Homo sapiens: one gene and its partners. The protein of the gene in region 1 purifies or fractionates together with the protein of each later gene. This does not show direct contact. Each region holds a gene or a part of one and is shown in the gene's direction. Other genes may lie near its edges.

Region 1 (6,125 bases):
CCCTCACGTGGAAGATATCAGCATTGAGGCCCCCAAGTGGACATCCTCCAGCCCTTTATTGCTAAAGGATTCCTGGCTGGAGCCTGCTGGTCTGGCTTGACACCTGGTCCTCCCCCAAGGCTGGCTGTGGGTTGGACAGCTGGGGTAGGGTTGGAGCTGGAGGCCAAATGCTGACTGCAGCAGGAAGCACAGCCGAGCTGTCAGGTGAGGCCAGGCACAGCAGAGAGGCAGGGAGCCGTGTCACCCTTTGGGCACTCTGCTAGGACAGGCAGGCCCCTGTGTACCTGTGGTTCTGGAACACCTTGCTGTCTGAAGGCAGATGTCTAAGGCTGTGCTGAGGAGCAGTGCAACGCTTGAGTCCTTTGTTTTAGAAGGAGACCCTGGGGGCCCATGAAGCAGTCCCATTGCAGTTCGGCTCACTTTATCTGGCTTCTTTGCCTGCTGTCTGCATAAGGTTACCTGGGAAAATGGAAAACAGCAGAATTCCAGACCCAGGTGGAGGGATCAGGTGCAGAGGAGCTGCTGCAAGTTTAATGAGCTGGGTGCTAATTGCTGCCTCCAAGGCCCCCCTCAGTGATGGCCTGGGCTTGCTCCCTGCCCAGCAGCCACCTCCTTGGACCTGCCTTGAAGGCTCCTGGAGTTCCTGGTGAAGCCAGGCTGCAGGCTGTGGGTGGAGGAGGGAGTTGGGTGCAAGAGACCCTGCTGGTGAGGTGCAGCTGGGAGGCGGGGCGTCAAGGCTGCACATCTGAGCATCAGAGAAGCCACGTTCTGGGGTGGAAAACGATGCCCCCTCCCCTTCCTGGCCTTATGGCATTTCAGCGGTGGGTGGCTGGGCTGTGGGACTTGCTCATGTGCAAGAGGAGAAACGGGTCTAGGAAGATGAAGATAGCGTGCCAGTGGCACAGGGCTGGTGAGGAAGTTAGAGCTGGAACTGCTGCTCAGTCTTACCTGGTTCCCATCTCTGTTCTGAGAGAGGCACCCCTTGTCCCAACCAAAATCCAAGCCACATTTTCTGAGTCAGAGGACTTCTTGTGTGGCCGGCCCTGTGAATGGTGGCAAGTGACCCTTACCGAAGGCTGAGTCTTGGGGGAGCACTGGCCTGAATCCTTGAGGGACATTCACTCTTTAATCCTTCTTTAATCCTAACCTCCCTTTGAGGTGGATATTGATGTAGCTGGGGTCAGAGGGCCAGCTCCTCTGAGCCCTGAAACGGGGAGAGGATGCTGTGAGATCCACCTGCCACCTTGCTGCCACCTTGCTGTGGGGCCTGGGGCAAGCAAGGCACTGCACCTCTCTGCGTCTCCTCACCTGTCTCAGACGATAGAGGGCAGGCTTCTGGGTGCTGTGAGAACTGTGTGCTGAGCATCCGCAGAGACTCTCGTCCTTTCCAGTCATCTCCCAAGGCCGCCTTCCCAGCGGGCTCCGCCTGCCTCCCTGCTGACTCCTGCCCGTGTCTCTTGTTTCAAGCTTGCGCGATCTCTGGCCTCTTCAACTGCATCACCATCCACCCTCTGAACATTGCGGCCGGCGTGTGGATGATGTGAGTAATGCATGGCCGTCCCACCCCGGGGGTCTTGCTGGTCGGGAATCTGCTGGGCACCTCCCGGGACAGAGGAGTGGCAGGGGCCGTGGGAGTGGGCATCCTTGTGGTTGCCATGGCTACTGGCTCCAGCCTGGGTGCCTCGGGCATGTGAGTTTCTGGCCACAGCATGCGGCTTCTTCCCCTTCATACCCCCACCATGTTTAGTTTCCTAATGAGAGGTCAAGGCCCAGGGAATGCCCACCCCGGCCTTCATCCGGTGCAGGGGCAAGGCCATCAGTGCTCCAGACATTTCTGGAGCATCCACTGAGACTGCAGATGCCAAGTCCACTATACTGGGGCCCTCGCCCTCTGGGAGCTCCCAGGACTGGGGTGGGGAAGGCTGTTCATTGGGGCTGGCTGAGGACTGGGTTGAATGGTCTGCTGGGAGAGGGCACTCGAGCTCGGAGCTGTGCCAAAGATAGATGGGAGAGGCGGGTCGGAGTTGTCACGGGAACCCGTGGTCAGAACACCCTCATGTGCGTTCCATGCCCACCTCCTGCCAGGGTTTCGCCATCCCATCGGAAGGGAAGGCGGGGTGAGGGCAGGCCCGTGTGGCTTGGGGCACGTGAGAAGTGGCGGTGCACCAGGAATTGATGAGTGTCCTCATGGGGCTTGGTGCCTTGAGGGGTACAGAGCTAGACGAGATTCAGGTCCCGTCCCCAGTGACCTATGGCCAGTGGAGAGCCTCGGGGGCCTGCTGTGGTGGGGTCCTCAGTGCTTGTGCTGGCCAGTGGTGGATAGGGAAGGGGGATGGACAGAGAGGCGCCCAGCCCAGCTTCAGGGGGTGGAGTCGGAGCCTGGCCGAGTTTGAAGTGGAAGGGCTGGCCCAGCACAGAGTGAGCCCGTGCTTGGAGGCCTGGTGTGTGGGAGGCTCGGGGCGGGTGCAGTGGTTAAGAGTTGTGAAGAGAGTGCCTGCCCCGGGCTTGGGGTGGCTCTTAGGTGTCCTGAGCCTGCATTTCTGTTACACAGGCATAATGATGGCACTTTTCTCCCAGGCCTGGGGACAGAAGGGCCTGGCTCAGTGTCTGCTAACTGATTGTTATCCATGCATAGAGAATACCAAGACCACAGCAGACACCTTCCGTCACCAGTGGCTTAGCTGTTCCCACCCCAAACATAGGGCTGGATGCAAGGACTTGCTAAAGTTCTTCCTCCCCAGCGTGGGCTTCCCCTGGGTGTCCCCGGGCCTGGGGCCGGTGGCATCAGGTGTGTGGGCAGCTCTCCGTGACTGTTTTGGGACTGCGTGGCTCCAGCTCTCTGCCTCCCTGGTGGGGCAGCCTTCCTGGTGCTGGTGCCACTGACGGCTTTTGGTGGCCATGGCGATAATACTAACAGCAGACAGAGGACACAGCTGCCAGTGCTCCATCTGTGGATGAACCTGCCGCAGCGTTGTAGCAGTGCCATGATGTGGGGTCCCCTTTCCTCCATGTCACACAGGAGGAGGATAAAGGGAAGCAGAAGCCCAGGGGCTTCCCTCTAGGAGTGTTCAGTTCAGCTGGGGAGATGGGTGTGCAGGAGCAGCTGGGGAGTGCTGGAGTCTTCAGCAGAGGCTCTCCGAGGGGTACGAGCAGGTGCCCTGGAGCAGCCGGGCGGCTTCCCAGAGGAGGAGGGATGAGGGCAGGAGGGTGAGGGAGGTGGCATTCCTTATGGCACTGGCACTGGGGGCCGCCCTCATCCTCCTGGGATTGTCAGTCGCTGCTCTTCTCCTGCCCTGGTCCCTGCAGCATGAATGCCTTCATCTTGTTGCTGTGTGAGGCGCCCTTCTGCTGCCAGTTCATCGAGTTTGCAAACACAGTGGCGGAGAAGGTGGACCGGCTGCGCTCCTGGCAGAAGGCTGTCTTCTACTGCGGGTGAGGGGTTGCTGGGCAGGGTCCCGTGACACAGTTCCCCAAAACCCCACTGACAAAATAGGACCCAAAAGTCAGGTGAGGGTGGGCAGTGTATTCAGTTCCTCTCTGTGGAAGTGTAAACTGGGATTGCCTTTGTGCACAGTGATTTGCTCATAGCTGCCAAAACGTGCCCCAGTGGTTCTGCGCCCAGGAACTCAGCTGTCGCTGTGCCGTAGTCACTGGAAGGTTCAGAGGTATATGAGCATGTGTGGCAGCATCCGTGCAGTGGAGAGAAAGTGGGAAGCGTCTGGAATTTTGGTCCGTCCACTGGGAGTTGTTAACCAGATGATAGTAGGTCTGTAGGACATGTTTCTCTGCAGCCTTTCCGAAGAGTGGGTTCATCTAGATGTCCTGACGTGAAGGGGGAGAAGCAGGTTGCAGAGCAGAAAATGTGGTTGCCCTCTAAATACACTTGTTAAAAATTTTCCCATTTCTAACAATGAAATCAATATGTAATACTTCTCCTCTCAGTCATAAGAAGGAACTAATTTCAGGATAAGCTTAATACACGGAAACTCCTAGAATAATGCCTCTAGTGCATAGGAGGCTGGTGGCAGCTGTATTCATTATTGTCTAGGTTATCTTTAGAAAGAAGTCTAGATGCAAGCTTGCTTCCCCTTCAGAGAGGCCCGGTAGTTTTGATGGTAAGAGCACAAGCCACATGCTTAGTTCTGGAGCCATCTTGTGCCATATCTAAATCACGAAGAACACAGGATCACAAAGCTCTTATCTACACGCAGTGTCATGTCCTTAGGGGTTCAAAAAACTGTATTTTAAAAATGCTAGACATCATAGAAATTCATTCACAATAATTTGGAATATAGAACAATGTTACTCGAAGCCCGCTGCCTGCTAATCTTCTGATGTGTGTGCTTCCTGTCTGCAGGCATTTTTTAAAAGCCTGCTTTTAACACAGTTATAACCATTATGAATAAGTTTGTATCCTGCCTTTTTTCACTTAGAGTAATGATATAAGCATTTGAACATCACCACAGACTTTATAACATTCTTTCAATACAGGAATATTCATTCAGCTGGATGTATCATGCTGTTCTTAATTTCTTAACTGGTGTAAATCGAGGTGTGATAAACATGTGTCTGCTAAAACTTTTTCTGTGTTTATGATGATTTCCTTAATATCTATTTTCAGGTGTGGAATTACTGGGTCAAAGATTCTGATCATTAAAAATATTTTAAGATGCGTGGCTACGTTGCTTTCCAAAGAGGTCCCTTGAGTCTCTCCCCCGCCCCCACCCCAGCCCAGGGCTGCACACCACTTCACATTCGCATTTATCTATTTGTTATCTAAGAGGGAAAAATATTTTCCCACGTGTTTCCATTGCATTTTCTGATATGAAAATTTTCGAGTTTACTTTTTAACCTGTGGGAACCTCAGTGTTCTGCTTAGCAAGTTCAGTGTGTTTTCTGTATTAAAGATTTCATGATCCTTGGTTGTATTTCCTGCAACTATTTTTCCAGGCTCTTGTTTGCCTTTAATTTTGTTTTTGTCAGAAGGTTCCCCGCCGTGGTCTTTTTCTTTGTAATTTCTATTATTATTTTATCATTTTGAAATTTTTTAACGACAGAAAAATCTCACAACCACATGTCTACAAGAATGGAAACTGAGGTAGAATGCAATTGGCCACGAGTCTTGTCCTCCTGCACAGGCAGCCTCCTCTAGGGAGGCGACAGGACAGAGCGCTGGCCTCCAGGCTGCAGGTATCCTCCTGGCCCAGTTAGCCCAGGAATTGCTGCTGGCCTGGAAATTCCAGCCAGGATGGAGAATCAGCCCCGGGGACGCTTAAGCCCCAGTGGACCCTGCCACCAGGTGACGCCAAACTGCAGCAAGGTCTGGGCCGACCCCGCAGACCCCGCAGCCTGCAGCCCTCCCATGATGAGACCCTGTGTTCCATGTGGTTGAATTCCAGGGACCTTACTTGTGGCGATGTGGCTGGTGTTACTCTATAACTCAGAGCATTTATTTAGTGCCTGTGGTGGTCAGCATTGTGTAGGTAACATGACTGACCTCGGACAAGCTTTGATCCCCTCTCCGCGGTGGAGATTCCGAGTAACTTGCCCGCGAAGCTAGTAGGTCCTGGATGGGAAGCCAGATTCTCTGTCACAGGCTCTTTCTGGCCAGTTTTTCTCACAGTGAGGGCACTGGACCATCTCGTTACTGTTTAGCTCTTTTTGGGATCACAGACCCCTTCAAAAATCTGATGAAAGCTTTGGATCCTATTCCCAGAATGGAACAGTTTTACAGACAAGTTCAGGGCTGATGAAGGACTTTCTGAAGCTGTGTCTCAGTTGATTTTTGGGGATCCTTCCTGTGCCCTGGGTGTCTAGGAAGGATGCTGGGCCGAGTCTGGGAAGCGGGGAAGGATGTGGTGGCTGTGGGGCCGGAGTGCCCCCTTGACCTCTGCTTTCCCCCCAGGATGGCGGTCGTTCCCATCGTCATCAGCCTGACCCTGACCACGCTGCTGGGCAACGCCATCGCCTTTGCTACGGGGGTGCTGTACGGACTCTCTGCTCTGGGCAAAAAGTGCGTCTGCCAGGCCCAGCCCCTGGGCAGGGCCTTCCTCCCTCCGCCCCCCGAAGTCCTTCAGTGAGGAGGATCTGAGAGTGGCCCCTTTTAGCTAGTGGAGACCGAGGCA
Region 2 (6,125 bases), on another chromosome or scaffold:
GAACCCAGGAGGCAGAGGTTGCAGTGAGTCAAGATTGCACCACTGCACTCCAGCCTAGGTGGCAGAGTGAGACTCAGTCTCAAAAAAGGGCAGGGGAGGGGGCAGGAAGCTAGACTATATGCCTGCAGTCCTAGGTAATCAGGACACTGAGGCAGGAGGATCACCTGAGCCCAGGATTTCAGTTGGAGTCTAGCCTGGACAACAGAGCCAGACCCATCTCATAAAATAAGGAAAGAAAACATCTGTGTGTGTGTGTGTGTGTGTGTGTGTGTGTGTGTGTGCGCGTGCATGCACGCACGTGCCCTCCCCTCCTTTTTTTTAGCCCTTAAGACTAGTCACACTCTTATATGCTGATATCGGCCTAAAGACATTTGTGTGACCATTTTTACATGCTTTAATTTCCCCTTTGCCCAGTCCTCATTTCATAGACTGCTATTCTTTCCATACTAGGTAGATTAAATTTAAACAACTAGTAAGATAGCAAATCAGTTAATAAATTCTTTAGAACTTAACATATTTGGCCAGGCACAGTGGCTCACGCCCAAAACTTTGGGAATCCAAGGCAGGAGAATTGCTTGAGCCCAGGAGTTTGAGACTGGTCTAGGCAACATAAGGAGATCCTGTCTCTAAAAAAAAAATTTTTTTTTAATTAGCTGTGTGTGGCCAGGCGCAGTGGGTCATGCCTGTAATCCCAGCATTTGGGAGCCTGAGGTGGGCAGATCACTTGAGGTAAGGAGTTCAAGACCAGCCTAGCCAGCATGGTGAAACCCTATCTCTACTAAAAATACAAAAACTAGCTGGGCATGGTGGCGGGCACCCTGTAATCCTACTACTTGGGAGGCGGAGGCATGAGAATCGCTTGAACCGGGAGGCGGAGGTTGCAGTGAGCCGAGACCACCACTGCACTCCAGCCTGGGCAACAGAGCAAGACTTTGGGCTGCTGGTTGCCCATTTTTATGGTTATTTCTTGATGATATGCTAAACAAGGAGAGGATTATTTATGCTTCCCCCCTTTTTTTTTTTTTTGAGATGGAGTCTCACTCTGTCACCCAGGCTGGAGTGCAGTGGCACGATCTCAGCTTACTGCAAGCTCTGCCTCCTGGGTTCACACCATTCTCCTGCCTCAGCCTCCCGAGTAGCTGGGACTACAGGCACCTGCCACCACGCCTGGCTAATTTTTTTGTATTTTTAGTAGAGACGGAGTTTCACCATATTAGCCAGGATGGTCTCGATCTCCTGACCTCATAATCCGCCCTCCTCAGCCTCCCAAAGTGCTGGGATTATAGGCATGAGCCACCGCGCCCAGCCTATGCTTCCCCTTTCTAGATCATATAGGGTAACTTCGTGACGTTGCCGTGGCATTTGTAAACTGTCATGGTGCTGGTGGGAGTGTAGCAGTGAGGACGACCAGGGGTCACTCGTGAGCATCTTGGTTATGGTGGGTTTTAGCTGGCTTTACTGCAACCTGTTTTATCAGCAGTATCTTTATGACCTGTATTTTGTGCTGACCTCATATATCATCTTGTGACTTAGAATGCCTTAACCATCTGGGAATGCAGCCCAGTAGGTTTCAGCCTCATTTTACCCAGCTCCTATTCAATCAAGACGGAGTTGCTCTGGTTCACATGCCTCTAATACTGCTATTTCAACTGAAAGCCTAACTCCTGATAAGTACGCACTCTGAATCATCATTCAGCTATCTTATTTACCATAGTTGTGAAATTAATTAGAAAAAAAACTGAAAGTGCATAAGTGCGTGCGTTGTTTGTTTTTTGTTTTTTTTTTTTTTTGAGACGGAGTCTTGCTCTGTTGCCCAGGCTGGAGTGCAGTGGCGCGATCTTGGCTCACTGCAAGCTCCGCCTCCCGGGTTCACGCCATTCTCCTGTCTCAGCCTCCTGAGTAGCTGGGACTGCAGACACCCGCCACCATGCCCAACTAATTTTTTTGTATTTTTAGTAGAGACAGGGTTTCACCGTGTTAGCCAGGATGGTCTCAATCTCCTGACCTTGTGATCCGCCCGCTTCAGCCTCCCAAAGTGCTGGGATTACAGGCTTAAGCCACGGCACCCGGCCAAGTGCATGCTTTAAATGTCAGTTCTAAAAAGTAAATCTGTACAAGTATTTAGGACTGAAATATACTGATGCCTGCAACTTTGAAATGCAGCAAAAAATAAGAATAATGAATGGATGTGTGAGAAAGCAAATATAGCAGAATAAGAATTATAGAATCTAAATGTTGGGTATATGGGTAGTCACTGAACAGTTTTTAACTTTTTTTGGAAAGTTTGAAATTTTTCATAATAAAATGTTTGGGAAAAATAAACCTTATCTAGAATTTATAAGGAATATAATAGCTACACAAGTATTCTCATTAGATCAAAATATGAAATTTGACCTATCTTTTCTGTAAGTCAGAAACAGATTAATGTAGACTATTTCAGTTGGTTCAACCTAGTCCTAACATTGTATTTTATTTTTCTGATGACTGAAATTGGATTAATTTAAAATGTGATTCACCATAATACTGATTAATTATGCTGATGTAGCTATTCTTATTTACGTTTGTGTTAAGAAAGTATGAGACTAAAGAGTCTCTAAATATTCTGCCAGTATTTTGTTGCTAAAATGATACATTCCATTTCCTAGATGTATACAAATATGTCCACAAAATTACCTCAGTTGTGGGGAAAAATATATACTAACAACATCTTAACCAGCCTGTGTGCTAGTATACTTACCAATTGAAATTTTATGCAAAAATCATAGGTTAGAACCCAGTCCTACTATGGGTAGTCTTGGTGGTTGCACAACAGTATGAATATACTTACTGCCACTGAATTATACACCTAAAAAATGGCTAAAATGGTAGATTTTATGCTATGTCTATTTGACGATAAAATTTTTTAAAAAAGAACAAAGTATTTTTGGACAACCATAAGACAATGTGAAGGCCCAGACAGCTTAGCTAAAGTGGGTCAAAAGGGTCAGAATGCTAAACAAATGCTACCTACGTTCTAATTTTACTTAGATCTTATGAAACCTGACTGAATTTGAAAGCTGAATAAAACAACTATTTTGGATATTGATGCCCTGGATTCAGTTCAACTTTTTTTCTGTTCTAATTGAAAAATTGTAATTGGAGCACACAATTGAAATTCATGTTGTTCCACAAGGACTGGAGAACCTCACCCATCTATAATACCTGAGTATATAGTCTTTCCCACTGAGCATAGTTAAGCTAGTTGTTCTGACAGAAGCCACTTATCCAATTAATTAAAAAGTGCACAGTAGGTAACATGCTTTAATTAGCAGTTGTTTCCACTTGTACAAGTTCTAATGGAGGGGAGGAGCGAAGGGTCTCATTGAATTGAACTGTATTTGCCCTGATGGAAATCGATGTCAAAACTTGTGTTAATTGGGAGAAAAACTGAGGAATTACAACCTAATTCCACAAGAAAAAATTACAATTCATGAAGTACCCTTAAAAGCAAAGTGGGAAAATGTTTTAAAATTACCGATCTCAATAGAATTTTATTTTTATTAATATAAGCACCCCAGACTTGATACTTCTAGATTTCAGATTTCAAGCATACACGCCCAAATTTATCATATTGCTATTCTAAAAAAAAAAATCTTGATATATTTATCTCCTTTGTGCTTTTTTGAAAATGTAATATTGTTTTCTCTCATGTTTATACTTTACCGGAAAGAAAAATGGGTTTTTTTTTCCTCAGCTGAAAAATGGAATGAGACTGTATGTGAAATCACTCGTGTAATACTTTGTTTTTCCAAGTTCAAGGGATTGGTGGTGGTGAACTGGGGAGAACACTGAATTTAATATATTACTGTGCTTACTATTCCTCAAAGAATTATTAGGTCTTATAACAAAAACAACTTGAGGTTTGTCTCCTTGCACTCTGGTTCATTAGAGAAGGTGAAGAATTACTGAAAAGATAGAGGAGATTACATAAAAACAAAGTTCAGAAAACATAAGTTCTGTAGAGGAAGACAAGGAAAAACAGAAAAAGTAGAAACTGCTCTAGTGGGAATGTATTGGTTGTTTTGTCTCCTTAGTCTTTTAATATAGGACAGAGATTCTGTAATATAACATAGCAGGCTCATCCCATTAAGTAAGAGCTGCAGTATAGAGGAGGCTGGAGTCCTAAAGATATAAATGTCATCCTTTTCTCTTTTAATTTACAGAAGTTGCTGGGTTTGTTTTGCTACTGATGAAGATGATAGAACAGCTGAATGGGTGAGACCATGCAGGTGCAGAGGATCTACAAAATGGGTTCACCAGGCCTGTCTACAACGCTGGGTGGATGAAAAGCAAAGAGGAAACAGTACAGCCAGAGTGGCATGTCCTCAGTGCAATGCTGAATACCTAATAGTTTTTCCAAAATTGGGTAAGAATATCTTTAAAAACAACACAGATATAGTTGATGTTATTATATATAACTTTATAAGTTCATTTTAAAATGAACCACCTCTTTTTTTTAGGGTGTGAATTTCTATATTCCCTTTCTCTTGTTTCCTCTCTGAATGTCAGACATTTATTTCTTTTGCTAACAGTTTACAGTATCCTTAATATATCCCCAAATTTATCCATTTGCCTGTGTATTAACTGTCTGTTTGATAGAAAGGAGAAAGAACTTGCATACCTGTGTGGATATAATTGAATAACAAAGCTCTAATAAAAAGCTGACTTTTAAAAAAAAAACTAACTTAGCTTAATTATCTGGAGACGGTGTAAGAGAAAGAAAGCAGTAGTATGTTCTAATACTTCTCCTTAATTCTTCCTTTTAAGGAATAAAAGTAGAGAAATTAAATATTTAATAAGATGTGACGTTAAACTCATCTTTGGAATCCAATTTATGTGGTTTCTTTCATGAACCCTGCTATCCCTTTTCTGTGAAGTGGCAGGTAAGAAATAACCAAAGATCTTTGAGAACAGGCCTAGCATGGAAAAAAAGTATAGCAGACTGCTTACAAGAAGCATTCTAAGGCTGCTTCTTTAGCAGCAGTATAACTAAGGCTGATATTTAGTGAGCCTGTTCCATTACAGCCATACAGTTATAAATTGGTGTCAATCTCTTGGTTTGGTGTTTATACCATGCCAGTTGTTAAACATTTTTTTATAACCCTTGACTGTAACCAAGAGGTATAGGAAGGCAGCTTGGGTTCTGGGAAGGTCATAAGGAAAGAATGTCTTTGGGGGCAGAGGGAATTCAGGAAAAATTGGAAATAATTATTATATATATTGTTTTTTATAAGTGCTATTCATACTGAAATCAGACCAATGTTTTTGAAAATGTGGCAACATAAATGCAGATAATGAAGTGCTTTTCTAATATGAGAAGATTAATAATAAGGGCAAACAAAATGTCCTTGGTTCTCTGTTTTTCTCTAACATGCACAGGAAGAAATGATAGCTTCCTTTGAAGGGGAAGTAGTGTAGTAGAGAAAGTAGTGTTTTCAAACATTTGGAATTTGTGGACCATGTGATGGGTCTTCAGTGCATACCACTGATTTTAGATAAACACAAAAGAATAATTCAAAATGTTTTTATTGTAAGATCAAAGAAGTATTTTTAAATCAGTATCAGGAAAAGCAATGATTGTTCACATTATTGTACCACCACATGAATGGTGAAAGACTCACTAAAGTCCAAGTTAAGGTTTCATATTTAACTGATTTCTTTTCTTGCTCTTAGTTGTACTAAATTAGATAGCCCCACCTTTGAATTATAGAGTTGGGAAGAGCAACAATTAAATATTTCTATTAGATGTTTTAGATATTCAAATGGACACAAAAATTATTACAAGAATTCTCACTGAAAACTACATCAAGTTGACAAGTGTATGGCACTCGAAAGCAAAGTTGAGTATTTTAATTTTGGAGATGGCAATGTGTAGATCTGTCCTTTTGGTTGAATTCAGTTCTAGGAAATATGTTTTCAGGTTTAGTGCAGTAATTGAATATGGTTTTAAGTCTACCTAGTTGTTAGAAAAGAGTAAATCTTGGCTGGGCGTGGCGGCTCACGCCTGTAATCCCAGCACTTTGGGAGGCAGAGGCGGGCAGATCACGAGGTCAGGAGTTCGAGACCAACCCGGCCAATATGGTGAA
Region 3 (6,125 bases), on another chromosome or scaffold:
TTCCTTATATAACATGCCATCATGTTTGCATACGGCCTACACACATCCTCCCACGTATTTTAAATAATCTCTAGATTGCTTATGGTACCTAATACAATGTAGATGCTATGTAAATATTGTTATACTGTCATGGCTTTTTAAAAATTTCTATTATTTTTTATAGTCGTGTTTTTAAAAATATACATGTATTTTTAATCCTTGGTTGAGTGAATCTGTGGCTATGAAGGGCCGACTATATTCATAGTTCATTTGTTGTTTGTTGAAGATAATTCCAGTTTCTAAATTTTCTAAGTCTGTGTCTGCTAGCTTATGATATTTTTTTCTTGTGTGCCTTGAGTACCAGTTGTATTTAAAAAATTATAGGAATATATGAGTCCTAGAATAATAGTATCTTTTTTAAGAAGGTACATTTTTCTAGGAAAGGTCTCTAGGAGTGCTTTCAGTCCCAAGTCACTATTCATGTTCAAGAGTTGGGATTCCTTCTGTTATACACATGACATTAAGGAAGACTTTAAGATCATGAATTCTATTTTCCTTCAATTTCCTCTTATCCTAATGATGTTGTCCTTAAACTCTGAACATAAATTGGGTAGTTTATCTGAGTCCCCAGCTTTGTTAGGCAATGTGCTTTTATTTTTATTTTTGATTTTGATTTTTTGTGTTTATTTTTATTTTAAATGAGGTCTCGCTGTATTGCACACAATCATCCTGAATTCCTGGGCTCAAGCTATCCTCCTGCCTTGGCCTGTCAAAGGATAGGATTACAGGCATGAGCCACCACACCTGGCCTTGTGCTTTGATTTTTTTACCATAGACCGGCACATCTTCCATTAGCTCAGCCTTTTTTCTCAGCCTTTTCTTCTAGACAGGAAAATGTCCTCAGAACAAAAGTTACTTGGTGTATGGTTTGTTTCTGGTTTACCTTCACATGGAATTTGGTAAGTAATTTCACATTACTTTATTTCATTCATTATTTAGTTTTTTTGTTGGCGTCAGCAGAAAGGTTGGTCCTGTCTGCCACTACCATAAATAAAACCCTAATTGTCTTTCTTTTTTACTTCTGAGATTTGATTTTAATATATTTATGCTTTGAGCCAAAATTTTTTTAACTTAACTCATATATTTAAAAATTTTAATTTTTAATTACTATGGATACATAAAATGGGGAGTATGTGATATTTGATATAAGCATACAATGTGTAATGATCAAATCAGGTAATTGGGATATCCATTACCTCAAGTATTTGTCATTTCTTTGTGTTAGGGACATTTCATTTCCACTCATTTAATTGTTCTAAAACATACACTAAATTATTGTTAGCTGTAATTACTATATTGTGCTACTGAACACTATATTTTATTCCTTCTATCTAACTATATTTTTCTACCCATTAACCATCTCCTCTTGATTCTCCTCTCAACACTACCCTTCCCAGCCTCTGCTAACATCTTTTTACTCACTATCTCTATGACTTCAATTTTTTTGAAGCTTCCACATATGGGTGAGAACATGTGATACTTGTCTTTCTATGCCTGGCTTATTTCCCTTATAATGTCAGTCACATCCATATTGTTGAAAATGACAGGATTTCATTTTTTTTTTATGGCTGAATAACATTCCATTGTGTATATGTACCACATTTCTTTATCCATCCATTGATTGACAGTTAGGTTGATTCCATATCCTGGCTATTGTGTATAGTGCTGCAGTTAACATGGGAGTACAGATACCTTTTATATACTGATTTCCTTTCTCTTGGGTATATACACAGTAGTGGGATTGCTGGATTATAGTTCTATTTGTTGTGTTTTTAGGAAGCTCCATACTGTTCTCTGTTGTGACTGTGCCAGTTTACATTTCCACCAACAGTGTACAAGGGTTCCCCTTTCTCCACATTCTCACCAGCATCTGATATTGACTGCCTTTTCGATAAAAGCCATTTTAACTGGAGTGAGTTGATACCTCATTATAGTTTTGATTTGTATTTCTCTGATTATTAATAATGTGGAACATTTTTTTCATATGCCTGTTTGCCATTTGTATGTCTTTTTGAGAAATGTCTCCTCAGATCTTTTGCCCATTTTAAAATCAGATTTTTTTTTCCTATTGAGTCGTTTGAGATTCTTATATATTCTGGTTATTAATCCTTTGTCAGATATTAGTTTGAAATATTTTCTCCCATTCTACATGTTATATCTTCATTTTATTGTTTTCATTGCTGTGCAGAAGCTTTTTGGCTTGGAGAGATCTCATTTGTTGTTATTTTATTTTATTTTCTTGCTTTAGTTGCTTGTGTTTTTGAGGTCTTATTTAAGAAGTCTTTGCCTAGACCAATGTCCTGGAGTTTTTGCCTAATGGTTTCCTTGATTAGTTTCATAGATGTAAGTCTTTAATGCATTTTTCTTTGATTTTTGTATATGGCAAGAGTTGGGGTCTACTTTTGTTGTTCTGAATGTGGGCATCCAGTTTTCCCAACACCATTTATTGAAGAGACTGTCCTTTCCCAATGAGTGTTTTTGGCACCTTAGTAAAAAACTAATTGGCTTTAAATACACAGATTAATTTCTGGACTCTCTGTTCTGTTGTTCTACATGTCTGTTTTTATGCCACTATCGTGCTATTTTGGTTACTATAGCGTTGTAGTATATTTTGAGGTTTGGTAGTGTGGTAAGTCTACCAGTTACCAGCTCTGTTCTTTTTGGTCAGGATTGTTTTGGCTATTTGGGGTCTTTTGTGCTTCCATACAATTTTAGGATTTTTTTTTTCTATTTCTGTGAAGAATGTCATTGCTCTTGATAGGGATGGCTTTGAATCTGTAGATTGCTGTGGGAAGTATTGTCATTTTAACAATACAATTTTTTTCAACCCATGAGCATGGGATGTCTTTTCATTTGTTTGTGTCCTCTTCAATTAATTTCATCAATGTTTGATAGTTTGCATTGTAGTTGGTTAAGTTTATTTCTAGATATTTAATATTATTTGTAGCTATTGTAAATGGGATCACCTTCTTGATTTCTTTTTCAGATAGGTTGTCACTGTTGGCATAGAGAAATTCTATGGATTTTTGTGTGTTGATTTTGTATTCTGCAATGTTACTGAATTTATTAGTTCTAATAGTCGTTTGTTGGAGTCTTTAGGTTAGTATAAGATCACATGAGCTGCAAACAATGATAATTTTACTTACTCCTTTCCAATTTAAATGCCCTTTATTTCATTCTCTTGTCTGTTTACTCTGGCTAGGACTTCTGTTACTAACTTGAGTAATAGTGGTGAAAGTGCCCATCCTTCTTCTAGATCCTAGAATAAAGGCTTTCAGTTTTTCCCCCATTCAGTCTGATACTAACTGTGGGTTTGTTGTGTATGGCTTTATCATGTTGAGGGATGATCCTTCTGTCCCCAGTTTGCTGAGAGTTTTTATGAAGGGATATTGAATTTTATCAAAAAAGATTTTTTTGGCATCTATTGAAATGACAATACACTTTGTGTCCTTCATTCTGTTGATACCATGTATCACACTGATTGATTTACATATGTTGAACCATCCTTACATCCCTGGGATGAATCCCACTTGATTATGATGATCTTTTTAATGTGCTGTTGAATTTGGTTTGCTGTGTTTTGTTGAAGATTTTTATATCTATTTTCATCAGAGATACTGGCCTGTAGTTTCTTTTTTGTTGTTGTTGTATCGTTGTCTGGTTTTGGTATCAGAATAAATCTGGGGCCAGGCATGGTAGCTCACGCCAGTAATCCCAGAACTTTGGGAGGCTGAGGCAGGCAGATCTCTTGAAGCCAGGAGTTTGAGACCAGCCTGGCCGACATGGTGAAACCCCATCTCTACAAAAAATACAAAAATTAGCTGGGCATGGTGGCTTATGCCTGTAATCCCAGCTAATCTGGAGGCTGAGGCAGGAGAATCGCTTGAACCCAGTAGGTGGAGGTTGCAGATCACCTGGGCAACAGAGTGAGACTCTGTCTCAAAAAAAAAAAAAAAAAAAAAAAGAATAAATCTGGCCTCATAAAATGAATTTGGAGATCCTCCTTGATTTTGGAGAATGATTTGAGTAGGATTGATGTTAGTTCTTCTTTAAATGTTTGGTAGAACTCAGTGAAGCCATGAAGTCCTGGCCTTTTCTGTGATGGGGGACTTTTTATTATTGTTTCTATCTTGAAACTTATTATGGGTCTATTTCGATTTTGGTTTTCTTAATGTTTCATTCTTCTTAGGCTGTATGTGCCTAGGAATTTATTCGTTTCTTCTAGGTTTTACAATTTATTGGCATGCAGTTGTTCAAATGGTCTCCAATGATCCTTTGAATTTTTGTGATATCAATTGTAATGTCTCCTTTTTTGTCTCTGATTTTATTTGGATCTTCTTTTTTTTCTTTTCTTAGTCTGGGTAAAGGTTCATTGATTTTGTCTGTCTTTCCAAACAACCCTTTTCATTTCATTGATCTTTTCTATTTTTTTGTCTCAATTTTATTTCTGTTTTTTATTATTTATTTTCTTGTTTTCTTTATTATTTCTCTTCTTAATTTGGGGCTTGGCATGCTCTTGCTTTTCTAGTTCTTTAAGATGCATTACTAGGTTGTTTATTTCTTGGTTTTCTACTTTTTGATTTGCACATTTATTGCTATAAACATTCCCTTTAGTGTTAGCTTTAACTGTATCTCATAAGTTTTAGTAGGTTGTGTTTCCATTTTCATTTGTTTCAAGACATTTTTTAATTTCCTTAATTACTTCATTGGTTGTTCAGGCACGTATTGTTTAATTCTTATATGTTTGTATAGTTTCCAAAGTTCCACTTGTTATTTATTTCTACTTTTATTCCATTGTGGTTAGAAAATATACTTTTTATCAGACTTGTTTTGCGGCCTAACATGATGGTGCTCTTTTTGGATTTCTGTTTGCATGCAATGTCTCTTTCCATCTTTTGGTCTATCTATGTTTTTATAAATGAAGTGGGTTTCTTATATGTAGCAGGTAGTAGGGCCTTGTTTTGTTTAGCCCTTCAGCTCTTCTGTGTCTTTTGATTGGAGAATTTAGGATCCATCCTTGAGAAATGTTCCATGTGCTAAGGAGAAGAATGTATTCTGCGGCTGTTGGATGACAGCTTCTGTAAATGTCTATTAGGTCCATTTAATCTATAGTGCAGATTAAATTCATTGTTTCTTTCTGTCTAGATGATCTGTCCAATGGTGAAAGTGGGCTGTTGAAGTCCCAAGTCATTACTGTATTGGGTTCTGTCTCCTTAACTCTAATACACTTGACTCTATATATCTAGATGCTTCTGTGTTGGATAGATATGTATTTATAATTTTTATGTCCTCTTGCTGAATTAAAACCTTTTGTATTATATGATAACCTTTTTTTCTTTCTTCATAGTTTTTATGTTGAAATCTATTTTATCTAAAAATAGATACAAAGCTACTTGGGCTCTTTTTGGGTTTCTGTTTGGTGCAGTATCTTTTTCCGTCTTTTTGTTGTTAGTCTATGTTTTTATAGTGAAGAATTTAGTCCATTCACATTCAGTATTATTATTGATAGGTAAGGACTTACTACTGCCTTTTTATTGTTGTTCTGGTTATTTTCTAGGGCTTTTCCCCCATTTTTTTCCTTGTTTTCCTTTGTGATAATTATTTTTTGGTAGTATGTTTTAATTTCTTGCTTTTTATTTTTTTGTGCACCTATTAGAGGTTTTTGTTTTGTGGTTACTATGAGGTTAGCAAATAACAATTTATAGCCAATTATTTGCAACTGATGACAACTCTGATTGCAAAGAAAAGAAAAAATACACGCACAGAAAAAACTAAAAACCTGTACACTTCTACTCCATCCCTTCACTTTTTGACTTTTTGTCTCTATATATTTTTATATTTTAAGTTTTGGAGTAGTTTTTTTTTGATAGTGTTATATAGAAAGTTTCGATGCTGCAAAAGAAATAGCACTCGAATACAAAATTTTCTTTTTAATATTCAGCAAGGCAAGCTACTTCTATATAGAAGGGTGCACCCTTACAGATGGAACAATGGTGAGCGCACATTTGGACAAGGGATGGGAAGGGGTTCTAATCCCTGACGTATGTGGCCCCTGCTGCTCTGTCGTTCCCCTATTGGCTGGGGTT
Region 4 (5,556 bases), on another chromosome or scaffold:
CTTTCGAATTTATTTAGGACCCTGAAGCACTTTAGCCAGTGGTGGTGGGGCTCGCCAGAACCTGACCACTGGGATGGATGATTCCCCTCTGGCTAGGGTTTCTCTAAGTGCTTCCTCTGTGGGCACTAGCTGAATTCTGCCCTGAGTTGCTTTCCACTGTGACAGGGCAAAACTCAGTTCCAATGCAAAGTCCCATAAGCACACAGATTCTCTCTCTATGCCAGGCAGCCAGGTGCTGCCAGAGGATGAGGGAGGGGTGGTGGTAGCAATTCAAGACTGTCTTTCCTACCCTCTTCATTGCCTTGTTCCTTTTTTTTTCTTCTTTTATGAGATAGAGTCTCACTCTGTCACCCAGGCTAGAGTGCAATGGCATGATCTCAGCTCACTACAACCTCCACCTCCCGGGTTCAAACAATTCTCCTGCCTTAGCCTCCGGAGTAGCTGGGACTACAGGTGTGCACTGCCATACTCGGCTGATTTTTGTATTTTTAGTAGAGACAGGGTTTCACTATGTTGGCCAGCTAGGTCTCAAACTCCTGACCTCAGGTGGTCTGCCCGCCTCAGCCTCCCAAAGCACTGGGATTACAGGTGTGAGCCACCGCACCCAGCCATTGCCTTATATCTTGATGTGACGTTACAACCAGCTACTGTGATTGCTACCTGAGTTTTGGTTCTCATGAAGGTGCTTTCTTGTGTGGATAGTTGTTCAGTTTGGTGTTCCTGCCAGGGAAGAGGAGGAGGAGGATCACTGGAGGGTTCTATTTGGCTATCTTGCCCCACCTCCTAGAAGAGTCTTGAATGTGCTGTTCCTTTTACCGTTAATCTCCACAGCTCCTGCATGGTCTCAGATGTAGCCTGGACAGGAGGCCAGGTAAAATAAAGTTCAATAAACGTTATGAGAGAAGGATAAGCCAGGTGGGCTCCCAAAAAAGAGCCAGCTGAAGGGGAATGTCCAGTCGCAAGGACCACAGTGAGAAGGATGTGGACACAGGGCAAACTCTGGAGAAGGGCCTAGAAACCAGGTCTCTTGGGTGAAACAGGAAAGGGCAGTTTGAAGAAAGGCATCATCCCCAAATCTGATAAACCAATACATTCTACTTTTTAAAGCGTATTGGTTTATCTTTATTTGGCAGTCTTGGAACTCTTCCTTTTGTAGCTTTTCCCCTGGGCAGAGGGAGCTGACGTGATCTGAGAAGTTCCAGGGCAGGCAGAGTAGTGAAGAGCCTGGAAAGAACTGAGGGTCAGGAACTGTCCTGTTCGCTTAAAGCAGGCACAAAATTGGCGTTCAGTAACTGTCTGTGGCACCACCGAATCCTGGAGTCAGGCTTCCGCTGGCCTGAGCACAGGTTGCTCGCGGACCTGGCTGACCTCCACTGGCCCCAGATCCCCAGATGCGAAAAGCCCAGTGGGCCAGGCGAGCAGCGGCGCGCAGAAGTCCCTGCCCCGCGGCCCGGCCCCGGCCCCGCCCTACTGAGGGTGCGCAGACGGCACCCGCCTTTTACGACGCGCCGGAAAGCAACGGCAAGGGCCGCAGCCAGCACCGGGCGGAGAGGGCTACCATGGGGGTGAGGGGAGGCCGCCCGCCGCGGGGACACGGAGGGGAGGTGGCGAGGGTCTGGGAGGCAACAGCTCGCGCCAGGAGGAGATGAAGCGAGTGGGTGCGCGCTGAAGGAGCAGGAGGCAGAAGGAGTGTCTCCCTGTGGCACCCACGGCTGGGAATGCGGGAGGGTCGGGCAGGCGTGGGGCTGCGCAGGCACGGCTGACGCAGTCGCTCTGGCCCTCCCCCTCAGAAAATCGCGCTGCAACTCAAAGCCACGCTGGAGAACATCACCAACCTCCGGCCCGTGGGCGAGGACTTCCGGTGGTACCTGAAGGTGCGGCCGGGGCGGGGCCCGGGGAGAGGAGGCCCGTCCTGATCTCAGTGCTGAACCGGAGCCTTCTCTCCGGCAGTATGAGAAAATATTTAACCAGGCACATTAAGTGTTCGGGGTTTTCCTAGTTAGAATTTTACGTTTGCTTTCTATTAAAGTGTATTGGTTTATCTCTAATTGGCAGTCTTGGAAAGCTTCATTTTGTAGTTCTTCCCTGTGTTAAATATTTCGTGGTCTGTAAATGGACACTAAACGAAATGCTACTTGAAGGGACGCTTGTGATTATTTAATAAGGTGAATAGTTCGCCTTTCGTTTATTGATTTGGTTTTCTTTATTGTGAAATAGTTTAATTTTGTGCGTAATCCACCCTTCCTTAGCCCTCCCACACTGGTAAAGCTGGTACCCTAGTGGCATGGTCTACAGAGGCCTCCCCTTCCCCAGCAGTTCGAGGCTCTTCACTCTTCCAGATCCCAGAGCTTCTGCTCTGTTTTACTCCTGGTCAAAAATCCCAGCATCCTTCTGTACCTCTCAAAAGCCCTGTTTTTCGGGAAGCTGCCTCCGGACTACTTTTGTTTCCCAGGATTTTGAAGCCTGAATACCAGGGCTTACTTGGGAGAATCTGTTCTTTGGCTTGAAGAAGCGGAATCGAGTGAAGGAGACAGAAAAATAGAGTAACAATAGAGTGATAAGTGCTTATACCAGTGACATACAGGGCCTGTGGGAACATAAAGCTAACCAAGCAGAGTGGGTCGGGGGCCTGCTGAGGCCATTTCTCTTTTTTTTTCTTAATTGACACAGAATTGTACATATTTATGGGGTATATAGTGATGTTCCGATAAATGTAATGTATTGTGATCAGATCAAGGTAGTTAGCATATTCACCTCAAACGTGTATCATTTCTTTGTGTTGGGAGCATTTAATATCCTAGCTATTTGAAACTATATATTATTGTCAGCTATAGTCATCCTACAGTGCTATAGAACACTAGAACTTATTCCTCCCATATAGCTGTAATTTTGTATCTTCTAACAAATCTCTCCATATTCCCCCCCCTCACCTCCGCTGAAACCATTTCTGCACCACAGGTGCCTTGAATCCCCGGCCACACTGAGCACTTCATAGAGGAGGGTGGGCACGCCGGCATAGGAAACAGCCTTACCTATCCTTTGCCCAGAGATAGTTCTAGTTTTGTCCTTGTTGGGGCAGGTGTTAGGGATGAAGTGAGATTGCCATCAAGAAGGTAGATCATGAGCCTGCCCACCTCCCACTGTTCTTACCCTTTCCTTGGTGTCTGTGCAGCAGAGCCAGCTGCTTTACTAACATTCTTTTTCCCCAAAGATGAAATGTGGCAACTGTGGTGAGATTTCGGACAAGTGGCAGTACATCCGGCTGATGGTAACTGTTCCCCGCCCAACCCCCAACATAAACACTCACAAACACACATACACTTCTGGGCAGGGATTTGGGGAAACTGGCCTTCATCTCTCCAGTTCTTTGCTCCCTGCTTTTTGTGGTTTGGGAGGGTAGGTGTCAGTGTGATCAGCACTGGATTCAATAGGCATCTTTGAGGTATGAGGCAGAGTTCAAAATCAAGGGGAAGCCCTTTTTTTATTTTCCTCAGGAAGCCTTCCCAGGAGTCTTGTCCTAGTAAGTTACCCTTTCTGGGTCTTGGTCTCTTTAAGTGGACAATAAATGGTGGGCTCGATCTCCTCAGGACTGTACATCTAATTCATATGTGACTGAAAGTTCTGTTTGCTTTTTGCCAGGACAGTGTGGCACTGAAGGGGGGCCGTGGCAGTGCTTCCATGGTCCAGAAGTGCAAGCTGTGTGCAAGAGAAAATTCCATCGGTAGGTCAGGCTGTGCGTACTGAGTTCTGCCAGGGTGGCCCACAGCTTCCTGGCACCAGGCTGAAAGTAGACTCATGTTACCTGAGGGTGGAGTCAGGCCTAAGATGCCGACACCTGTACAGCGTGATCTTTTTCAGGGCCACATGTGGGCACCTGGCTGGGGCGAGGGTATGGACTCAAGTCAACTTTGTGTTCTCTTTTCTATTTCAGAGATTTTAAGCAGCACCATCAAGCCTTACAATGTAAGTTTGCTGCTGTAGTGGCAGGGATGGTGGGCTTAAATCCTAACTGGAGTTAGTAGGTCTGGGTTCTAGAGTCATGCCTGCATCAGAGTGACCTGCCATAGGACATTCACTCATGAACTTAGTTCTTCTTTGACTCAGTCATTTATCCACTGTACACTGAGTGCTTGGTATATTGCCTCTTGCAGTGCCTTCTTATGAGGGCTGGGCTGTGAGAGCTCAGGGGACCTCTGACACAACCTAGCTGTTCAGTTTGCATCACTGAGAGCACTTGCCTTGTCTTCATTTTAGGGGACTAGCAAGCTTTCTCTGAAACCATGGGTGGGGTAGTCGTTTGGTGCATCCCATCCTTTATATCATCAGTGTTAACAAGTTAGCCCAAAGGTGAGGGAGGGTGTGCTTTGGATCTGTTTGTTTAAAGAAAGCCAGTTATATGTATTCACCTATTCCTTATTTGGTATTTATTTAAAGTATCTTGAGTTGTGCCAAATTCTTGGCTTTGTCCTGAAGTTAAAGAGAAATTAAATGAGGACTCGCCTTCACGTACATAATAATCTAGTGGAAAATACAAAAAACAAGAATCGAACTAGGGCCCTAACAGAGAAGTGCCTTACCAGTGCCAGAGATGTGGTCAGTGTGCAGGAAATTACTTTACAGTGAATGACAGGATGAGACTGAATGTAGGGCATGGCACTTGTGGTCCCTAAGCCCATAGGTCAGGTAGGCATGAATTTCCTGGCCACCTGCCCCCCAAGAGGTGCCCCCTCCACATACATAACCATTTCAAAGGCTATAAGACAGCCCTCTGCCCTTACTGCATGGCAGATGGTCAGCAAAAGGCTATGGTTAAGTGTACTGGGTCTGTTTGGATGATCTAGAGACTTTGGAGCTTAACATTCTTGTTCATATTTTTGGTGTTGATAATTTTATTTACTATTTATTGAGCACTGTGCTGGGCACTTTATATGCATTTCAAAATCTGACAGTAAAATTGTAGAGGTTTCCTCGGCTCTATTTGACAGTTTAGGAATCTTGGGCCCAGAGGGGAAGATAGGCAGAGCTTACCTTACATCCAGGCAGGTTGACCCCAGCATCCACGCTCTTCTGCAGCCTCCATGTCTGCTGTCTACAGAAAGCTTCATAGGGAGCAGGTGCCCAAGGCAGGCTTCCTCTAAGAAGGGGATGAGTTCTTCCTGGGTCTCATACTAGGCCTCCAGGGGCAGTAAGTGCCCATTTGGCAGGAAGGAGAGGGGCCATGGGGTCATCCTGAGAGCTCATTTGGGCCTGCCTCCTCAACACACTTCCTTTCTAGGCTGAAGACAATGAGAACTTCAAGACAATAGTGGAGTTTGAGTGCCGGGGCCTTGAACCAGTTGATTTCCAGCCGCAGGTGTGTGTGTATCTTTCTGGGGAATCTTTGTCTTTGGGGAGGGGATGTATGAAGTGACAGCCAGAACTGTGCTACCTACAGATACCATGGACTAGACATTCTCCTTTCTAGCGGTAGTAATAATTGTCCCTTAAGTGGCTGCTGTATGCTTGGGCACCCATGCCATCATTTTTACATGTTACCACATTTAATTCTTATGGTAA
Region 5 (6,125 bases), on another chromosome or scaffold:
GGCAGAGCAAGTGTCTTCACATGGCCAGAGCAGGAGGAAGAGAGAGATGGGGGAGATGCCACACGTTTTTAAACAACCAGGTCTTGTGAGAAGTGTATCTCGAGAACAGCACCAAAGGGAGAACTCCACCCCCCTGATCCAATCACCTTCCACCAGGCCCCACCTCCAGCATTGGGGATTACCATTCAACATGAGATTTGGGTGGGGACACAGACCCAAACCATAGCATGGTGGTGCGGTGTGTTTTGTTGCTGTTCTTTTTTGGCCAAATAATTGCTCAAGGACTTTTTAAAAAAGAAATGTATATGCTACATAATTACTTCACAAATGGTTTGAAGATCTAAGTAAGTCAGACGTTTTGGCAAGTGTTAAAATTTAGTGTTTCAAGGTGAGAGAATGCTCTGTATAAGAAATGTTTAGTTAATTGCAGATCATACAAAAGTTCCTAATAATTTTTTTAAAGGACTTTGTAAGTTTTTGGAGGGAGCAAAATGGATTTCACAACAACCAACACCTCTCACCTCCCCATCTACAAGCTTCCTCCGACAGTGGTTACCAATAATGTCTGTTTTATAGTTATTTAAAGCTTCATAAGTACTTGAAGCCATGTATTCTGCTTAAAAGAAAAGTAGTTGATGGAGGCAACAGTGTTTCCAGGGATGTCATTAATTATCTCTTTTTCACCGACATTATTTCAGTTAAAGTTTTAAAAGACAGTTACTACCTCTAGGAAATAAATGTTCTTTTTGAATGATATCCTACCATCCCCCACCTCCTTTAAGGCAGTAATGCAGTTAAATGCTTCCGAAAACAAGGCCATGTGACGCTTAGTAATTGGTGATAGGACAGGATGCTTATGGTGGAATGAAGGAGCACTATTTAGGCAATATCATTGGAGTTGCTTTGAAATACTCAATTAACTAGTAATTCTGTTGCTAATGTTCTGTACAGATACATAAGCATCTCCATTTTTACTTACCTGTAAGAAGCAGGAAACAAATCATTGTTGAGTACCAAATCCATAGGTTAATGTGGTCTTAATAGTTAACTATTATATGCAGTATAAATGAAAGAGTCTTTCTCTTTCTGTAAGTTGCCCTCTTCTTCTCTTCTACGTCTCTTATCTCTCCCCCTGTATTTAGCTGACATATTTATTTTGACATATTTAGTTGATCTGCCTGCCTCAGCCTCCCAAAGTGCTGGGATTATAGGCGTGAGCCACCATGCCCAGCTGGGAGTTGGTTTATTAAGCCTAACATTATGATATTAAAAATTTGTCTTTGAAACGTCTAATCTGAGCTAGGGTTTTATGGCTGATTTTTGACATAGTGATACTGAGGAGAAACTCTTCCATTCAATCTGTAAAATTCTGAGATCATGTGAAATATTTGTGGCATAACTTTAATATTAGTTTTGGGCCACAGTGATAAAGATGCTTTAACTGTAAAATTAAAATGATCTGTTTCAGGTTTTTTATTGTTTTGCAGATCAGCAATTCATGCTAAAAAAGTGTCCTGCCCTACTTCAAGAAATGGTTAATGTAATCTGCCAACTAATAGTAATGGCCCGGAACCGTGAAGGTGAGGAGGAAATATAGTTAATTATGTTATACTTTTTCTTGCAAGCATATGCAGATTGTACTTCATATTTTAGGATTTATGGGTACTCAGACTTCTGTCGGCCAGTTCAGTGAGCTTCTTCAATTTTACTCATGTCTTTTCATATTTCTTTCCTATATTTTCTATTATTTAAAGTCTATATCACAGCTCACTGGGTTTTTTTTGTTCTTTTTTTTTTTTGAGATGGAGTCTTGCTTTGTCGCCCAGGCTGGAGTGCAGTGACAAAATCTTGGCTCTCTGCAACCTCTGCCTCCTGGGTTCAAGCGATTCTCCTGCCTCAGCCTCCTGAGCAGCTGGGATTACAGGCGCGTACCACCACACCTGGCTAATTTTTGTATTTTTGGTAGAGACAGGGTTTTACCATGTTGGCCAGGATGGTCTCCATCTCCTGACCTCGTGATCCACCTGCCTCAGCCTCCCAAAGCCCTGGTCACTGTGTTTTTGATTTTAATTCTTGTTTTTTTTTTTTTTGGAGACAGAGTCTCACTCTGTCGCCTAGGCTGGAGTGCAGTGGCGCGATCTTGGCTCACTGCAACCTCCGCCTCCCAGGGTCAAGTGATTCTCCTGCCTCAGCCTCCTGAGTAGCTGGCATTACAGGCGCATGCCACCACGCCCGGCTAATTTTTGTATTTTTAGTAGAGACGGGGTTTCATCAGGTTGGTCAGGCTGGTCTCAAACTCCTGACCTTGTGATCCACCTGCCTCAGCCTCCCAAAGTGCTGTGATTACAGGCATGATAATTTAATTATTTTATTGTTCAATTGTTTGCAAAGATTTAAAATTTCTCTTTCTTTGAATAATTTTTGAGTTAGGTCATTTTTTCTAACAGTGAATTTGAAATCTTTAACTGATATAAAAGTGATTCATATGTCATGTAATTTTTATTAATTAATTATAGACAGCATCTACCAGGGCTGGAGTCCAGTAGGGTAATCATAGCTCACTGCAGCCTCAAACTCCTGGGCTCAAGCAGTCCTTCTACCTTAGCTCTCCGAGTAGCTGGAACTACAGGTGCATACCACAGCACGGAGCTAACTTTACATTTTGTGTAGAGGTGGGATCTCACTTTGTCGCCCAGACTGGTCTGGTTTCCAACTCCTGGCTTTAAGCAATCCTCCCACTTCAGCTTCCCAAAGCCCTGGGATTACAGTCATGAGCCACATGCCTACAGGCACCTAGCCATTTTTTTTTTTTTGGTATGGAAGGAAAAGAATGAGGGAATTTCTGGTCAGTAATGGAAAGGAATGCCCTTAAAAAAGGATAGTGGTTATGGTTTGTTGTTACGGGTGATGTTGGTTCTTGTCATGGTGTCATATGTTGGTGATACTGATAATGTCTGATAATTTACTATTATTTGAGGTGAGGCAAATAATTTTTCTTTTAAATCAATGGTTGTTGCTGGAAAATGTTCATTAGATCGAGTTTGTATATTTTTAGTGTCTTCTCTGGTAACTTTTAAAGGAAAATCTTACTATGATCCTCAAATTTGAGGTGTTATGGATTTAGTGTGAATTTTGTTTTTGTGATGAATTGTATACTCCTGAACATGTAAAAAGTCCAGCCCTGTTTCTTTTTTTCCTGTTCTTTCTAAGAAAGGGAGTTTCGTGCTCCAACTTTGGCATCCCTAGAAAACTGCATGAAGCTTTCTCAGATGGCCGTTCAGGGACTTCAGCAATTTAAGTCTCCCCTTCTGCAGCTCCCTCATATTGAAGAGGACAATCTTAGACGGGTTTCTAATCATAAGAAGGTAATTCTTTGCTACTTTAAAGTCAGTTTTCAGCAGTTTGTCCTGTCACTTAAAGGTAACATGAATAAAAGTTTTCTGGAAATGGTTACTATGCATTTTTTAGATTTAGAATGTCTTAAATACTCTAAAACTTTCTCTCAGGTGGTTCTGTTAACATTTTCTTGACTAGGTAGCTGTGTTTTATAGTATTTTACTACTGTAAGTAGTTTTATTATTTTGGGGGTTGTTGCATTTAAAAAGTCAACAGTTAGTTCCTTATATTATGTTACCAAAAATAAATGTACTGTCTACTTTACAGTCATTTTATTCTTGGCTTAAGGTTGGGCAATTGTTTACTGGTTAAGCATGAACAACAAAAACATTTAATAAATCAAATAAAGACAGTTCTTATTTAGAATATATAATCTATAGTATAAACATGATAATGAATCTTAAGATATAACAAAAATTTGTGTAAATGAAAAACTTGAGGAAATATAAGAAACTGAAGTTACAATTCTAGTAGGAGATTTTAAACATTATTTTGTATATGATAGATAAAACTAGCAGAGAATAGACATTGGATTTGATAGTATATTAATGTAGAATTAATAAATGCATGTTGGAAATTAGTATCAGAGTTCTCTGTCCTTTTAAGTACTCATGTTCCCCTTATAAATTTGATTGTATGTTAAGTCATAATTAAAAACTTCAGAATCTAAAAGCAGAGATTTTACATGCCTCATGATCTAATCTGTGTCTTTGAAAGTGAAAAATAACTAGCACCAAACACCTGGAAAATTAAAGAACACGCTCCTAAGTAACCATTTTGCCAAGATGGATATTACTGTAGTAATAGCTATATTTTAAGAATAACAAAAATGAGAATATTGCATAGTAAAACTTTGAAGGTGCGTCTTTATTGAGGTTTATTTTTACTTTTATTAGGTAAAAGTAAACGTTTATTATTAAAGGTTTGTTAATAGTAAACCTATTAATTGCTAATTAAAGGTTTTTGTTATTAAAATTGAAAATAAACTGAGGACATCAATTGACAAAGTTCTTGGTTGAGTCAAGATTCTTATTTTTTCCCTCCAACTTTGTTTTTTCTAATTTAAAAAAATAAGCCTGTATTAACTTTATAATTTAAAAATTCTTAATTTAAATTTTCTTGGAGAAAAAGGTCATGAAATGCCATATCGTTATTTTGTACTTTGAAATGCACATTAATCAACACTTTTCTAAAAGTTGCTGGATTTTGTTGTGGTTAACATGTGAGTAATTTTCTTTTTATGAAAAGCTTTGTGAGTTAGGGAATTATGTATTTTCTTTTTTTTTTTTATTCAGTATAAAATTAAAACTATCCAGGATTTGGTGAGTTTAAAAGAATCAGATCGTCACACTCTACTGCACTTCCTTGAAGATGAAAAATATGAAGAGGTTATGGCTGTCCTTGGGAGTTTTCCATATGTGACCATGGATATAAAATCACAGGGTAAGTGGGAGGTTTCTCTGTTGAGCATTGCTTCCCTTTTGATAGATTGGTTCTCATTTATTTGACTCAGGATTCTCAAAACACTGTACTTAATAACATAACTTGTTATTAGACTTTGCAGAACTGTAGTTTACCTGTCAGATTTACTATGTTGGAAAATGATTTATACCTAATAGTTTGAGAACACTGATAGAGTCCTACTTTTATTATCCTCATAATGGGATGAAGTCTGAACACTCTGTTCTGTAGTTCAACTTTTAGCAATTTCTTAACTTTCCAAAGAATGATGAAGACTTCCAGGCATAATAAAAGAATGAGATATTTGAAGTATATTATTAGTATGAAAGAAATAGCTGCCTAGTTCTAAAATTAAATTTTTAAAACCCAACTTATTTATGTTAATTAAATGTTGAAAATTACTGTGTTTTATGCCACATTTCATGTGTTTTTCTTGCCCTACCTCTATATTTTCTTTGAGGGAAAAAAATAAAGGCTATTTTTCTACCTATATAATTGCTCTGTGTTTCTATTTCAATATCTGAATGGTCTTAGAATACTGAGAGAATTAGAGACTATCTGCTCCATTCTTTCATTGTGGTGGTGGTCTGAGCTTTAACATTTGCTAAGTTACTATTATGAGAACATTCTTTTAGTTACCAAGAATACAGGGATATATTAATAATGGTTTCTGTCTTTATTTTATTTATTTATAAATAATTTTTGAGACAGGGTCTCACTCTGTCGTCCAGGCTGGAGTGCAGTGGTGCGATTTTGGCTCACTGCGTCCTCTGCCTCCCGGGCTCAAGCAATCCTTCTACCTCAGCCTCCTGAGTAGCTGGGACTACAGGTGCACACTACCATACCTGGCTAATTTTATTTTTTGTAATTTTAGTAGAGACAGCGTTTCACCATGTTGCCCAGGCTGGTCACGAGCTTCTGGGCTCAACTGCTCCACCTGCCTTGGCCTCCCGCAGTGCTGTGATTATAGGTGTGAGCCACCGTGCCTGGTTTGTGTCTTTAAAGAGAGCTTATTGTCTAGTTGAAGCAATAGGCTTAAAAATAAGATAAGGGCTGGGCCCAGTGGTGTCATGCCTTTAATCCCAACACTTTGGGAGGCCAAGGCAGGGGGATCACTTGAACCCAGGAGTTCGAGACCAGCCTGGGCAACATAGTGAGACCCTGTCTTTATAAAATTAAAAAAAAAACACACACACACCAAGATAACATATGCTAAGTGTTAACGTGAATGACACAGACATTGTACCATTTATTTATACAGCAAATAT

What was found.
Region 2: the proteins of CACFD1 (region 1) and MARCHF5 purify together in Homo sapiens (affinity purification with mass spectrometry; one large-scale study listed by BioGRID and IntAct). This does not show direct contact.
Region 3: the proteins of CACFD1 (region 1) and ORC4 purify together in Homo sapiens (affinity purification with mass spectrometry; one large-scale study listed by BioGRID and IntAct). This does not show direct contact.
Region 4: the proteins of CACFD1 (region 1) and CZIB purify together in Homo sapiens (affinity purification with mass spectrometry; one large-scale study listed by BioGRID and IntAct). This does not show direct contact.
Region 5: the proteins of CACFD1 (region 1) and SEC63 purify together in Homo sapiens (affinity purification with mass spectrometry; one large-scale study listed by BioGRID and IntAct). This does not show direct contact.

What each region holds. Positions count from the first base shown.
Region 1 is NC_000009.12:133,462,016-133,468,140, forward strand, and holds part of CACFD1 (calcium channel flower homolog), read left to right. Parts: exon of another isoform or gene 1-167; coding exon of another isoform or gene 168-204; intron 205-1,467; coding exon 1,468-1,540; intron 1,541-3,306; coding exon 3,307-3,432; intron 3,433-4,221; exon of another isoform or gene 4,222-5,905; coding exon 5,906-6,013; exon of another isoform or gene 6,014-6,125. UniProt on the Homo sapiens protein: Transmembrane protein which mediates synaptic endocytosis and fitness-based cell culling.
Region 2 is NC_000010.11:92,306,933-92,313,057, forward strand, and holds part of MARCHF5 (E3 ubiquitin-protein ligase MARCHF5), read left to right. Parts: intron 1-4,202; coding exon 4,203-4,405; intron 4,406-6,125. UniProt on the Homo sapiens protein: Mitochondrial E3 ubiquitin-protein ligase that plays a crucial role in the control of mitochondrial morphology by acting as a positive regulator of mitochondrial fission and as an important regulator of immune response.
Region 3 is NC_000002.12:148,008,727-148,014,851, reverse strand, and holds part of ORC4 (origin recognition complex subunit 4), read left to right. Parts: intron 1-6,125. UniProt on the Homo sapiens protein: Component of the origin recognition complex (ORC) that binds origins of replication. DNA-binding is ATP-dependent. The specific DNA sequences that define origins of replication have not been identified yet.
Region 4 is NC_000001.11:53,216,579-53,222,134, reverse strand, and holds the start of CZIB (CXXC motif containing zinc binding protein), read left to right. Parts: upstream 1-1,500; 5' UTR 1,501-1,559; coding exon 1,560-1,565; exon of another isoform or gene 1,566-1,775; intron 1,776-1,790; coding exon 1,791-1,874; exon of another isoform or gene 1,875-2,334; intron 2,335-3,211; coding exon 3,212-3,268; intron 3,269-3,639; coding exon 3,640-3,721; intron 3,722-3,931; coding exon 3,932-3,963; intron 3,964-5,275; coding exon 5,276-5,353; intron 5,354-5,556.
Region 5 is NC_000006.12:107,900,084-107,906,208, reverse strand, and holds part of SEC63 (translocation protein SEC63 homolog), read left to right. Parts: intron 1-1,487; coding exon 1,488-1,580; intron 1,581-3,210; coding exon 3,211-3,365; intron 3,366-4,691; coding exon 4,692-4,839; intron 4,840-6,125. UniProt on the Homo sapiens protein: Mediates cotranslational and post-translational transport of certain precursor polypeptides across endoplasmic reticulum (ER). Proposed to play an auxiliary role in recognition of precursors with short and apolar signal peptides.